Homo sapiens: one gene and its partner. The protein of the gene in region 1 purifies or fractionates together with the protein of each later gene. This does not show direct contact. Each region holds a gene or a part of one and is shown on either strand. Other genes may lie near its edges.

What was found. Proteins that work in one complex are often made in the same cells at the same time.
Region 2: the proteins of ACOT8 (region 1) and KLHL23 purify together in Homo sapiens (affinity purification with mass spectrometry; 3 studies listed by BioGRID and IntAct, with this or other methods). This does not show direct contact.

Annotation. Positions count from the first base shown.
Region 1 is NC_000020.11:45,854,378-45,861,777, forward strand, and holds the start of ACOT8 (acyl-coenzyme A thioesterase 8), read right to left. Parts: upstream 3,016-7,400; 5' UTR 2,939-3,015; coding exon 2,811-2,938; intron 916-2,810; coding exon 782-915; intron 1-781. Other genes in the region: ZSWIM3 (zinc finger SWIM domain-containing protein 3), read left to right, coding at 3,449-3,603. UniProt on the Homo sapiens protein: Catalyzes the hydrolysis of acyl-CoAs into free fatty acids and coenzyme A (CoASH), regulating their respective intracellular levels. Displays no strong substrate specificity with respect to the carboxylic acid moiety of Acyl-CoAs.
Region 2 is NC_000002.12:169,728,980-169,736,846, reverse strand, and holds the start of KLHL23 (kelch-like protein 23), read right to left. Parts: upstream 3,016-7,867; 5' UTR 2,760-3,015; intron 1,835-2,759; 5' UTR 1,833-1,834; coding exon 620-1,832; intron 1-619. Other genes in the region: PHOSPHO2-KLHL23 (kelch-like protein 23), read right to left, coding at 620-1,832.

The DNA of each region.
Region 1 (7,400 bases):
TTTTTTATATTTTTAGTAGAGACGGGGTTTCACCGTGTTAGCTAGGATGGTCCCGATCTCCTGACCTCGTGATCCGCCCGCCTTGGCCTCCAAAGTGCTGGGATTACAGGCGTGAGCCACCGCGCCCGGCCTCACACATAGGTTTTAAGTTACATTATCTGACCCCAGAGCTGTAAGAAGCTGTAGAGATCATCCCACTAAAATACCCTTGGTCCCACCCTTCTCCATTTTACAGCTGAAGTAAACCAAACTGTAGGGCGGGGAGGTAACCTCACAAGGCTGCATGGTAAATTATGGACAAAACTGAAGCTAGGCCCTACATCTTTGGTTTGTTTTTATTGACCCTATGCTCAGTTGACAAAAGAAGCCTTAGATCCCTTGACTCTCAGGCTGGTGCTCTCTTCTCCAACCCAAGCTGCCCTACCTCCACACCTCTAGCACAGAGGTCACAGCACACTGAGAACCTAGCACAGCGCTCCGCACCAGGAGCTATGTTAAGAATGGAAGAACAAAAGCCCACAAGGAGCAGTTAAGCAACAAAGTCTTGTGTCATTATCAGCCAGACATCAGGTACCCAGTGAGTCCCAGCAGGTGTGAGGTCCAAGGCTCATTGTTAGCCCCAGACCTCGTTCCACCCTAGACACCTCTTAGGGTGGTAGTGTCCGCCACCCCTCCCCTTGTCTTCCAGTCTCCCTCTCTTCCCTTTTGACCTCAGCCCCCAAGGCCAGAAATGGCTGCTGGGCCACCAGGGTTGGGTTGGGGCAGGAAGTGGGGGGTTTACCTGCCCGAACAAAGTAGCAGTGCAGGGAGTGCACGTGGACGTCTTCACTCACAGACTTGGCTGCAGCCACCAGGGCCTGGCCCACGATCTGACCACCAAACAGCCTCTTGGCCGGTACCCAGTAATGCCTTCCTCTGTAGGGAGAGGGGGAAAGAGGGAAAGACTTGGGAACTGGGCCAAATTCTACTACCCTCACTAAGACTCTAATGCATGATCTCTTCACCATATTGGGGTTTAAGATCCTTTTGAGAATATGGTAAAAGCCATAGGTCCTTTCCCCAGGCAAATATCCTTATGCATAAAAATCCTCTGGGCCGGGCGCAGTGGCTTACATCTGTAATCCCAGCACTTTGGGAGGCCGAGGCAGGTGGATCATTTGAGATCAGGAGTTCAAGAGCAGCCTGGCCAACATGGTGAAACTCCATCTCTACTAAAAATACAAAAATTAGCTGGACGTGGTGGCATGCACCTGTAATCCCAGCTACTCAGGAGGCTGAGGCAGGAGAATCACTTGAACCCAGGAGGCAGAGGTTGAGGTGAGCCAAGATCGCACCACTGCACTCCAGCCTGGGTGACAGAGCAAGACTCCATCTCAAAAAATAAAATTAAATAAATGTATAAATGAATAAATAACAAGAGCCCTCAGACATCAAGTCTAACTCCTTCAGTGTACAGATGAGAAAACTGCAGCTTGGCCCCAGAGATGAAAATGCTTGCCCAGAATGTAGGCCCATTGGAAGCTGAATAATTATGTCTCTAGCCTCCCACGTCCCAGCTGTTTGGCATTTTCTGTAACAATGAGTTATGAACAGCCCTCCATGACCTGGCAGGTGGCTCTCGCCTGTAATCAATCCCAGCACTTTGGGAAGCCGAGGTGGGAGGATCGCCTGAGCCCATGAGTTCAAAACCAGCCTGGGCTCCAAAGTGGGGCCTCATGTCTACTAAAAATAAAAAAGTTAGCTGGATGTGGTGGCAAGCGCTTATGGTCCCAGCTAAACGGGAGACTGAGGCAGAAGGGTCACTTGGGCCCAGGAGGTCGAGGTTGCAGTGAGCCATGTTCGTGCCACTGCACTCCAGCCTGGACAACAGGGCCAGATCTTGTCTTCAAAAACAAAAATCAAATAGCCCTCCAAGAAGTTATTTACAATTCCTTAAGTGGAAGGAAGGGAGCTCAAAGTAAGATAACTTCCAGTAAAGCCAGGAGAAGCCTTGGAGGTCAAAGCTGTTAGAAGCCTTGCTGCAGGGGGCTGGGCGCGGTGGCTCATGCCTGTAATCCTAGCACTTTGGCAGAGGTGGGCAGATTACAAGGTCAGGAGTTCGAGACCAGCCTGGCCAACACGGTGAAACCCCGTCTCTACTAAAAGAAGTTAAAAAATTAGCTGGGCTGTGGCGCGCCTGTATGTCCCAGCTAATCAGGAGGCTGAGGCAGGAGAAATGCTTGAACCCGGGAGGCGGAGGTTGCACTGAGCCGAGATCGCACCACTGCACTCCAGCCTGGGCAACAGAGCAAGACTCCGCCTCAAAGAAAGAAAGAAACCCTTGCTGCAGTCAAGAACTTCAGCGATGCTGGGAAAGAAAAAAACATGCTTAGGCCTCAGAATAAGTAATGAGAAACCAGACCCACCAAATGGTACTGGGGGCGGGATATTGTGAGAAGAAAAGGATACTGAAGACACAAGGAGCTGCGGCGTCGGTTTTAAGGCTGATCCATCAGCTGTGTGCCCTTGGGCAAATCACTGCCCTCTCTGGGCTAGCTCCCCCGTGAAGGCTTAGGGCAGGCTGCCGAGCAGGGTCTCTCAGGTCACCACTATATTTGCTCAGCTGTGCAGACCTCGCAGCGCGGAGAGGAAGGGAGGAAGCCAGAGCAGAGAGGACAGCTCTGTTGGGGGCGAGTTCTCTCCTAATCGTGGCAGAGGGTGCATCCCACGCAGAGCCATACTAGTCCCGGAGCCAGGGGCCCCGGGCGGCGGCAGTCAAGATCAAGTTTCTGCCCTAAAGGAGGGGATGCTGGGCAGGAGCTGCCGGCTACCTGAAGAGATCCTCGTCCAGCGGCTCGAGGTTGAGCACGGTCGTGACCAAGACGCTACGGAGGTCCCCAGGGGGATCGCCGCGGTCGCCACAGCCCTGCCCATCTTCTGGGGCCTGCGGGGACGACATCTAGTTCAATGCTGCAGGCCCTGCACACCCGCTCCGCGGAAGACGCGGAGACATACACAGAACCTGACTCTTCCGGCAGATTGCCCTAGTAACCGGAAGTCTCCTGCAGACCCCGGGAAGGAGGAATCTAGGTTATGATTGGTCAGGACTCCTGTCAGTCCGCTGGTGGCTGTGGCCCTCTTTCTCTAGCAATTGGAGAAAATGAATGCCAATCTGCGAATCCTGTGTGTGACTGGATATGTCGCTGAGGAGGCGGAACCTCGGGACTGGATAATATGGACTGAGTGTCATTTCCCCTGTCAGATAGCAAATACACCCCCTTCCTCTTGTAACCCGGTCAGGCCTAGGGTTCCTCCCTGAGTTCCAGAATAGGCCACCCAGTTGGGGCGGACCCTTAAGGCATTCTGGGCCCACGCCTGCCTATAAACCCTCATAGTGTGACCTTTGACCCCTGGTGTGATCTTGGGCCCGGGCTGGGACCAGCCCCTAGTGTGGGTTGTGGGGGCGGCCATGGAGCTGGGCAGCTGCTTCAAGACCTATGAGGACTTCAAGGAGTGCTTCAGCGCCTACAAAAGGGAGAACAGGTGCTCCTTCATTCTCAGGGACTGCGTCTCCGTCCGCTTCCACAACCTCAACCATGGCACCTCCATCCGCGAAGACATCCTGTAAGGGCGGGCGGGGCGGGGCGGGCCAAGAGGGTGGGGAGGAGGCTGGACCTCCGGAGGGCTGCCTGGAGGAGGAGGGGTGCATAGGCACGCATTGGGCTGCGTGGCCATTCATTCAACAGGCACTCATTGAGCACCTGCTGTGTGCCTTGTGAAGAGAGCTAAGCCTCCACGGCCATTGGTTTTTGACCACCCACTCCACTTTCACTCCATTCACAGGCTTTTCTGGAATTTATAACTGCAGTTTCTCCCATTGTTTTGAGCAGCTGCAGCAACCCAAATACAAAGTATGGCTTTCATAAACGGATAAAAACACCTTGGCGATAATTTCCTTCATCAGTCTCCTCTTTACAAAACAGTCACATGGTCGTTGGAATGTTCGTTCATTCATTCATTCAGTTTTTAGTTCTTATATATTTGTTGAAACAGGGTCTCACTCTGTCCCCCAGGCTGGAGTGCAGTGGCACAATCAGCTCACTGAGCCTTCAACTGCTGGGCTCAAGCGATCCTCCCACCTCAGCCTCTCAAGTAGTTGGAACTGGAGGTGCACGCCACCATGCCTGGCTAATTATTTGATTTTGTACAGACTGGGTCTTGTTATGTTGGCTAGGCTGTTCCCAGACTCCTGGACTAAGCGATCTTTCGGCGTCTCAAAGTGTTAGGATTACAGGCATGAGCCACTATGCCTGGTCTATTCATTCATTTTGTAAATGGTTTTTGAGCTCCTTATATTAACCGTTTTCAAACACTTTCCATGTGCCAGGCAGTGTTCTCTATGCATGCTTTACCCTGCAGGGCTTTTTTTTCAGAATTATAGATAAATGTTATTTTTTTGCATTTGACAGATGAGAAGATTTGACAGATGAGAAGTCAGGCTTAGAGGTTAAGACAGGAGTTGAAAACTCAAATGCCTTCAGGGATTAGGTGAAACAACCCAATGTAAGAAAGTTTTAACTTTGAATTTTACTTTAAGAAAAAGAATGATGAAATAGCAACCAACACCAGGTCTTTGTGCTAGGGACAACAGAAGTGTGAAATGGGCCAAATGGAGAGTAGATGCCATCTAATCAGCTCCAGCTGATGGCTGCCATATGAAAATAAAGATCTAGTGTTGCCAGAATTTTGGGCAAGAGTTGTCAGAAATCCACACTTTATGTGGATTTTCCCATTTAAAAAAATTGAATCAGTTCAAATTTTAACTCAGAGCATGCGGGCCAACTCAGAGTTAAAGCATATCCGAGTTTGAGACTTGGATTGAGATGCTCAACCAAAGCTCCTCAATTAGACAGCCAGGCTATATTCTTTCCACTGTTCTGAAGTCCAGTGCTATGCTGGGTATAGGTGACATAAAGATGAATAAGTGTTCAAACTATCCCCAGAGAACTAGGATAAACTTGAACTCAAGCAAACTGGTGTGTGATAAATGCTTTAAAAGGAATGTGGAAAAAAAAAAAAAAAAAGAAATGTACGGAGAAAGAAATGAATGACAAATGCCTGGGAGGTGGGGGAAGTCTTCACACTGGAATTGATGGTTTCCCTGGGCTGTGAATGAATGTAGAGTGCTAGAGTAGATCTGTGGTTAATTACTGAGTACCATGGAGGCATTTGACCAGAAGTTGCTGTGCAGAAGGACCTACAGGAGCAAAGACAAAGATACATGAAAGAAGGTTGGCATGTTAGAGTAACAGTGAGGGATACCATGTTTGGCAGGAGATGAAGTCATTTGCAGTCTAAGGGTCTTTAGGGACCATTGTGAGGTGTTTGGACCTTGTCCTTTATGGGTAGGACCTTGCTAAGCAATGAGAGGAATACAAAAAAAAAAAAAAAAAAAAAAAACCACAGTTGCCCGTAAACACCCTTCAGGAAGACCATCTCAGGTGGCTAGCACAAGGTGTGGCCCATAGCAGGCATTAAATAATTATTGAATGAGTGAGTTATCAAGTACTAACCATGTGATTCAGGGAAATAGGTGCTGCGGGAACTCAGAAGAGAAAAATCACTGCGAGCTAGAGACGTAAGAGTGAAAGGGAGGCTTGAGCTGGGCCCCCAAAGATGGAGAGCTGTCAGAAGGTGTATTGGTTTTCTGTTTGCCACTCTAGTGAATTACCACAAGTTTAATGGTGCAAAGCAACACAAATTTATTATCTTAGAGTTATTTAGGTTAGAAGTCAGGCACAGGTCTTAGCAGGCTAAATCAAGATGTCTGCAGGGCTGTATTTCTTTCTGGAGTCCCTGGGTAAGAATCCATTTCCCGCCGGGTGCAGTGGCTGATGCCTGTAATCCCAGCACTTTGGGAGGCCAAGGTGGGCAGATCACTTGAGGTCAGCAGTTCAAGACCATCCTGGCCAACATGGTGAAACCCCGTCTCTACTAAAAATACAAAAATTAGCTAGGCGAGGTGGCACATGCCCGTAATCCCAGCTACTCAGGAGGCTGAGGCAGCAGAATTGCAGCCGGGAGGTGGAGGTTGCAGTGAGCCAAGATCGTGCCATTGCACTCCAGCCTCGGCAACAGAGCGAGACTCCATCTCAAAAAAAAAAAAAAAAAAAAAAAAAGAATCCTTTTCCTTTCCTTTTCCACCTCCTAGAGGCTGCCCAACACACCTTGGGTCATGGCCCCCTTCCTCCATCTTCAAAGCCAGCAGTAGCAGGTTGAGTCATCACATCACTCTGACCTTGCTTCTGTCATCACGTCTCTGACTCCCTCTTCTGCCTCCCTCTTCCACTTTTAAGGATCCTTGTGATTATATTGGGCCCACCCAGATAATCCCAGATAATTTCCCTATTTTGAAGTCAGCTGATAGCCACCTTAATTCTATCTGCAACCTTAATTCTCCTTTGCCATGTAACCTAACGTATTCACAGAGTCTAGGATTAGGACAAGGACATCTTCAAGGGACCATTCTGCCTGCCACAAGAAGATTAATAACCTGGAGGTAAAAATGGTGTGAGTCAGTACAGACGTAAACATGACGTGCTTCTATTAGAAAACAGTGATGGGCTGGGCACGGTGGCTCACACTTGTAATCCTAATACTTTGGGAGGCTAAGACAGGGAGATTGCTTGAAATGAAGAGTTTGAGACCAGCCCAGACTATAATCCTGGGCAACAAAATGAGATCCCCGTCTCCACAAAACAAAATTTAAAATTAGGGGCCAGGTTGTGGCAGCTCACACGTATAATTCCAGCACTTTGGTAGGCTGAGGCAGGCAGATGGCTTGAGGCCAGGCATTCTAGACCAGCCTGGGCAACATGCCAAAACCTCATCTGTACAAAAAATACAAAAAGTAGCCAGGCATAGTGGTGTGTGCCTGTAGTACCAGCTACTCTGGAGGCTGCGGCAGGAGGATTGCTTGATCCCAGGAGTCAGAGGTTGCAGTGAGCTATGATCGCACCACTGCACACTACATTTTAGCCTGGGCAACAACAGAGTAAGATCCTGTCTCTAAAAAAAAAAAAAAAAGCAAGCAGTGATGTATGTTTGCACGCACATACAAAAGCCATGAGGAGACCTGCTTAGCTAGAAGGAAGGATTTATGCTGGAGCAGCAGGAAAGGAAATTGGAGGGTTGATAAGCAGGTTGGTGGGTTGGGATTTGTTTTGTTTGTTTTAGGAGACAAGGTCTCGCTCTATTGCCCAGGCTAGAGTACAGTGGGAGGGTCATAGTTTACTGTAACCTTGAAATCCTGGCCTCAAGTAATCTTACTACCTCAGCCTCCTAAGTAGCTAGGACTACAGGTATGCACCCCCATGCCAGGCTAATTTTTTTTTTTCAATTTTTTGTGTAGAGACAGGGTC
Region 2 (7,867 bases), on another chromosome or scaffold:
CACCAATGAATAAATACAATGAAATAAGATTCCCGTTTAACTTTTTTTCCAGTGGGAGAGAAGGAGAGCAAGGCAAACAAATCGCCAAACACAGCAGAAAATAGTGTTTATCAGACAGATACCGAGACCCAGGGGTGTGCCGGGTTCTGTGGGCCACATGAGGGAGAGTATGGTGTCTGCCCCTCTCAGAGAGGACTGAATTGCAAAAGCAGACGTTGTCTCTAGTTCCTGGAAGAATGTACTTTGTTACATCCTGTAGGGACCAAACCTTCCAAGGTTTTAATGAAGGACCTCTTGAGAGCTGATCAGCGTATTTTGAGAGGAAAAAGTTGAATAGCAGAATTTTAAAGGGTTCAATTTTAAGAACATGAAAAAATGAAAAACTGTCCAGATTTGTCTCTTCATCTAGCCCTTGACTTGAATATAAATTCTCATAACTCTCAGACAAGTTGGGAACTATGCTATACTGTTTTTATCTGGAACATTCTGTGTAGCATTATTTGTATAATTAACTATAGTTCCTAGATAGCATCCCAAAGTGATAAATTCAAGAGAAGTGAGACTGCTGGCCTAGCTCCAGACATCTAAAAAATACAAAATAAACATAATCTCCACTTACCTTTAATCATGTTTGCAATAGGAATCCATTTCTCTTTTAAAGGATCATAGAACTCAGCCTCTTCTGCTGGAGCCCCTTTTCTGTAACCACCTAAAGCATAGACACAGCCACCCAAGGTGACTGCACAGTGGTAATACCTGGCATTGAGCATTGGCAAACCTTCTGTCCATTCATCACTTTCACTGTTATAGATCCACACTGTGTCAAGAGCTTCTATGTTATCCGTCCTGTAGCCCCCAGTTACATAAATGTTGGGTCCTAAACATGTAACACCATAGCTCTCCCTGGTATAATCTGGTATTTCTGCTCCCTGAATCCAAACATTTGTCAAAGGATCCCATATGTGAACCTCTGATAAAGGATGCCAGTAATAGCCTCCAATTATATACATTGTGGCTGTGGACCTCTGGGAAATCTCTTTATGCATGGGATTCAAGGCATTGTATATTAGGGAGCGGATCTTATTTTCGGTGAGCAGGCAGCTTCTTTGAAGGCCTAAGGCTGTTTTTAAGTACACTGGATCTATATCAATGTTGATATAGCTCAGTAGATTATAGAGGCATTCAATTCGATTTTCTACATCATGAGCAGTCCACTTAATAACTGGCTCTATGATAGCTTCTTCTTTCCAAACACTGAGATTCTTTCTGGACAAGATAAAGAGAAACTTTTCAAGGCTGATTTCCAGAAATTCTTCTTGTTGCCACACTTCCTTAAACTTTGAACATAGAATTCTTCGAGATTCCTTCTCTAGTTCTGGACACACATGAAATTCTGCAAAGGAGTGCATTCCAATACAATTATCAATATCCAAGTGCCTTACCAAAAACCGCTCACAAGCCTTCTTTACTGAAAGGAACTGTAGCAGATCCGCTGCCTCAAGCAGGCTTTGAACATTTCTTTTAGTTATTTCAATTTGGGAAGTGTATGCATAATTTACAAGGCCTTCCAGAATATCATGGTGGATGCCAGAGAGTTTTATTTTATTTTTAAATTTTTCTTTCATGTCAGCTGTGAACATTGCCTTAAAATAATTGCTGCAAGCAGCTAAAACGGCTCGGTGACAATGGAAAATTATGCCTGAAGGACACTGAAGAGTAATATCAGTAAATAATCCATCCAAGTAAAATGTTCTGAATGCATCCAGAAAATCCACTGGATGTGTTGAATCCTTGAAAAGATAAATATAATCTTCTTGTCCTTTTAGAGCCATGGCTGCAATAAATATGAAATAACAAATGTGTTTTCAATGTTGCACATTCTCTCAAATAATCAACGCTAAATAACTTGACTATCATCGGATATACTCCAAAACTGGACTAAGTTCAGCATCTAAATAATAAATGCAAAATGTGGATGGACTGTTTGATCATTTATATGGTGGTCAATTTAAATTCAGGGTAGCTCGGAGCTTGAAATGAGGCTCCTGGATTTTTCAGTAGTCCTTTTGAGAGTACTGATTTGCTATTCCATTCACCGCAATCTACCCTGGCCTGGCGTTCGGAGATGAGATCCCACACTAGGCAAGGCAAGTGTCCGAGGGTCACCCCACTCGAGGCCGGACCTCAGCTGTCTCGGCTCGGCCCCAATTCAACCTTTTCCCCAAGCTCGTCTCCCTTTCAAATCACATCGAAATGCCAAGAAAGGGATGATGGAAATATAAATGGACAAGAAGAGGTCTCGGAAAAGGGAAATCCCGAGCCCTTTCGCTTAAGGAAGGAGAGAAAGGAAGGCAGCTCGGCGCAGCCCTTGCAGCCCTCGCCCCCTCCCCCGCGCCCGCCGCAGGGGTTTCCGCGCGCCCCGCGCCTGGGCCCCGGCCCACGTTCCCGCCCGGAGACCGCCCCGCCCCGGGGCCAGGAGCGGGGCTGGACTCGAGGGCGCCGCGTGCCGCCCGCGGGCCCGGTGCCCGCGTCCCTCTGCCCGGCGCTCCGCGCAGGTGTGGGAAGGACGCCGCAGGCAGCCCCAGCGCAACGCGTTCGGCCCGGCCCGGCGCCCGCGCGGCCATTGTCTGCGCTCCTCTCCCGCGCGGCCTCGCTGCCCGCGCCCGGCCCCGCTGCCCGCGCCCGGCCCCGCTCCCCGCGCCCGGCCCCGCTCGCTCCCAGCAGGCCGGCCTCGGGCTGCGGGTCCACACCGCACCTACCTCCCGCCGGGGCTCGGGACGCGGCGCTGGCCCGCGGGCTAGTAGCGAGCGGGAGCGGGGACGCCTCCGGCCCCTCTGACCATCTTTGGAAGAGGCGCTCGGAAGCCGCCAGCTAGTGCCGCTCCACCCCACAAGCAGCTCCTATTTTGGTGTCCCGGCGGCTCCCCCGCCTCCACCCGAACAGCCCCCCGCACGGTCTGGGCGCGAGGCCACTCGCGGGAACTCCCCCGTCGCCGGGCCGTGCGGCGAGCGGGGCGGGGCGTGCAGGCGTGAGCACGGCTCGGCCCCTCCCCAGCGGCGCCCCCCACAGCAGGTGGGACTGCTTCCCCAGGAGACAGCGCGCGCCGCCGCCTTCCCCTTCCTTGGCTCGCTCTCTGTCCCGCGCGCTCTCTCACACCCGGTCGAGCGTCTTCTCTTAGATAAACTCTGAGTCCTGAATTATTAATAACACCATATATGAGTGTGTGTGTGTGTGTGTGTGTGTGCGCGCGCGCGCGTGTGCATGTGTGTACACTCCCCTCCCTCAGTAGGCTTCGCCAGCCCAGACTCAATCGTGAGGACAGAGAAGGGGGAAAGAGTGGAGAGAATGGGGCACAACTAAAGGTCAGGGATTGGAGGCGCCGTTGAAATGCCAGAAGTAGCCGGCCTTTCCCACAAACGCCATCCCACCCCCAGCAAAGCACTCAGGAGGGCGCCTTGGTGCTGGTGAGCACATCAGGGGTTAAGCTGAAGCTTTGAGAGAAACTTTGGGCAGCCGGGGCCAAGGCGAAGTCCAGGCGAAGTCCAGTCGTGCTAAGATTCAGGTTATTGTATTTAGAGCATAGCAGCTGGAAGGAGCAGCCTTTCTGGTGACGGCCACTCTAGTCACAGATGTCTATGTGGTACACAAAGTTCATTTTCTTGTTCCAACTAAAGCCAGTATCAAATATTTTTGTATATCATTCATTCATTCATTCGCAAGATTTTATTAAGTGCTTCTAGTGCCTGATAGGGATAGACACTAGTAGTGATAAGAGTGTTGACAGATGGTCCCTAGCTCACAGGGACCTTCACCACCACCAGAGGACCATGTGTTTCCCAGAGTATGGTCTCAGAAACGCAATATACATGAATGGCCAGATAGTATGTGACAACAGAACTCTGAACCACATAAGAAGCCCAGGAAGCCAGACCACAACCTTGGTAGCAGCTGAACCAGAACAGTCAGGAAGTAGTCAACGACTGGCAATTTCCCTATTTTTTTTCTTTTTTGAGACAGGGTCTTGCTATGTTGCCCAGCCTGGAATGTAGTCGCACGATCTTAGCTCACTGCAGCCTCGATCTCCTGGTCTCAAGAGATCCTCTGCCTCAACCTCCCAAGTACCTACGACTACAGATGTGCAATTTTTGAAAAATTTTAAATATTTTTTCATGACAGGGTCTCACTATGTTGCCCAGGCTGGTCTCAAACTCCTGGACTCAAGCGATCTTCCTGCCTGGGACTTCCAAAGTGCAACTTCCCTATTTTTACCCCTAGTTCCACCTCTGCACCAACCAGAGAAAGCCAAATATGTTCCGCAAACCCATCACATAAAATACCCCCGCTTCTAGTAGCCCACCTGCAGCTTTCCCATGCCAACAACTTCCAATCAGAGCATACCGGGGGCTTTTCTTCACTTCTATAAAGCTTTCCCACTCGTCTGCCCCACCTTTGAGCCTCTGACAAAGTGATGGTGAGTGGGACTCCCTTCTACAGCAAACTCTGAATAAATAGCATCTGTTGGTTCTCCTGTGGGTGGGTTTTAGTTTAATTCCACAAGTCAGATCATCTTAATTGAATTATGTAAGATGCTGGTTATGCAGCCCCCACAACTACCACACCCCACGCACAGACGTCTGCGGGGTGGAGACCTAGGGATCTGCATTCTAATCAAGGGCAGCAGGTGATTCTTATGGACAAATAAGAGAATGTGTTGGACCCAAAAGGAAGAAGGATGAAAGTTTAACATCCCAACATCTGGTAAACAGTATAGTTAGAAAAGGAAAGCATATGAGATTTAGTTTCGGGCTTAAGGCTCATCTCTGCCACTTATCCAACATATAGCCTCTCACAAATTACTAAACTTCTCTGATCCTTCGTCTTCAGATCTGTAAAACACAGACAACATGGATACTTTCTCAACCTAACCTAAGGTTATTGGAAAGACAAATTAATAATGAAGCACTTAGGACTTGATATATAAATGTTAGCTACTATAATGAAAGAATATTTACACTTAATTCTGCATCACAACCTTAATTTGGAAATTAGCATCTTCTTAACATTTCTTCAGAAATTATGAACTTCATAGTTAATAGTAATTATAGCTTGCCCTTCATAACTGATAGTGATGCTGTTGTCACTGTTGCCATTCAAGGACACAATTGTGACTGATTGAAGGAGACTTCTCTCCATTTTTGTCACTGAAGTGTAGAGATGGCTGTTTTTGCAGCTATAATTACTGTTTGCCAAGTTTGATGTATAAAAAAATATAGGCTCCATCTAACTTGGAGTAAGGGCTTCTGGAATCATAACTACATGTAATAATAAATGATTCATGAATAATAGAATTCACTATATTCTCATTTATGCAGTTATTTCAGATGGCTGCATGAACCAACTAAAACTCTTGCTTTCATTTCGTGATGTTCCCTGGTTGTGAATTACTACTTAAAAGTGTATATCAGTGTATATTACATATTAGACTATTATACTGCTTCACTTTGCTAAGAGAAGAGCAGGTCCTGAAGGGTATTGCCTGGCATAGTTCCTCTTTACCATGTGCTTATCAAAGAGACCATTGCAAATGCTGATAGATTTGATGCATTCAGAAACATATAATTAGCATTCATAAATCAAATAAATTAATGATACCGTTCAAGAAAACAGATGTGCCATCTGTGGTTCCAAGTCTTAAAGAAATAAAGTGCTGCCATGGAAATGAGACATAAATGATTTGGCAGATACTAAGCTTGGCATGGAGTTAGATGACTTATTGACATCACACTTCAGCTTTCAAAGGACTCCGAGTTCTAAAAATAATGATTTTATTTATAATTTTTACCTTATTAGTACATCTTTCCACTAAGTACAGCCATGCCATTAAATGTTTGATATGCTGTGATATCATTAACAATGTGTGTAGATGATGGGCATAGATAGAACATTTTGTATACTTCATTTACATACTGGATTAAACAAGTTGCTGCCAAGTTAAAAAAAAAAAAAAAAGGCCAGGCCCATTGGCTCACGCCTGTAATCCCAGCACTTTGGGAGACCGAGGCAGGCAGATCATGAGGTCAGGAGTTTAAGACCATCCTGACCAACATGGTGAAACCCCATCTCTACTAAAAATACAAAAATTAGCCAGGTGTGGTGGTATACGCCTATAATCCCAGCCACTCAGGAGGCTGAGGCAGGAGAATCTCTTGAACCTGGGAGGCGGAGGTTACAGTGAGCCAAGATTGCGCCATAGCACTCCAGCCTGGGCGACAGAGTGAGACTCCGTCTCAAAATAAAAAACAATAGTAGGTAAAATGTATAAGGCTACCACATACAGCTTTGCAAATTGTGCACTGCACAATTCCAGCTCATGCAACTTAAGTAGAGTACAGTGTAAACACTGCTCTCAGGAGTTGTATAGTACACAACCAACGCAGGTATCTGTGGCTGCCCTGCAGCCGATGTGTCTTGGTAAAACCTTTTTTGGTATGTTTCCTGTAAAATAAGAAAGTGAACATTCTAATAACTAGGTAAAAATGCTTTTGCAAGTCACAGGTTTCCAATTCCTGGTTTCCAGCAAAAGTGAAAGAGGATTTTTGGCAAATAATTTGGAGGGAATGACAAAATGAATGGCATTACTATAAAAAAGGTTTTTTGTTTGTTTTTTTTTTTTTGAGACGGAGTCTTACTCTGTCACCCAGGCTGGAGTGCAATGGTGTAATCTTGGCTCACTGCAACTGCTGCCTCCCAGGTTCAAGAGATTCTCCTCCCTCAGCCTCCTGATTAGCTGGACTATAGGTGCATGCTACCACGCCCAGTTCATTTTTGTATTTTTAGTAGAGATGGGGTTTTGCCATGTTGGCTAGGCTGGTCTTGAACTCCTGACCTCAGGTGATCCACCTGTCTCAGCCTCCCGAAGTGCTGGGATTACAGGCATGAGCCATCGCGCCCGGCCACTATGATAAAATTTATCTCATTCTTACCTATTTGTCTCTGTGAACATGTTTTCTCAGCGATTATGTCTATAGAAATGTTAAGCAGGAACATTATTGAACCTAAATACTGTCTCATTCCAGCAGTAAGCACTACTTGACTTCATACTCTAAATGAAAGTAGCCCTATTCATCAGATTGAAATAATTTTTAATAATTTTTTACTTTTGATTTAAACATATTTATGTTTAATTAATTATAATAATAATTATAATATTAATTAGACCAGGATTTGTAAAATAACCAAAGATATAAAACCATCAAGGACATACAAATTGTAATTTATACACATTTTTGTCACAGAGAAGGTTAAGAGATTAATAAAAGATATTCAGTATAAAACCATACAGAAAAGTCTTTCTTTTTTTTGGCCTGGCCAAAAATGCTTTCTTTGAATGGTTCCAATATGTATGAATTTTAGTTACCATGGTTTAGTTAAATAACACCTGTCCCCTGAGAACAAGGTTTCAAATTTCAGTTACTGAAGTAAATTAACTCTGAGTAACTGCATAAAATACAAATTTGCTGCTAGCTCCTCAGGTCCATGAATTACTACATTAACAAATGCGCATCCTGATCAGTGACCAATCATGTATCTTCTTTCAAAGTCTGTCAGTGATTGATCTCTGTGCATCTGTCAGTTCACATACAGACAGTAAGGCTTGCAGTTGCATTGTCTCCTTGTCTGCTAGTAAAAAACCCATGTGACATTTTACAAAAATGGGTGATTGAGAAAGGGTATTGACCAACAAGGATGAAAGTATGGCATGGAAATAAAAAGTGACAATACCGCAAATAAAATGTGAAATGGCTGGGCATGGTGGCTTACGCCTGTAATTCCAGCACTTTGGGAGGCCAAGGTAGGCGGATCACCT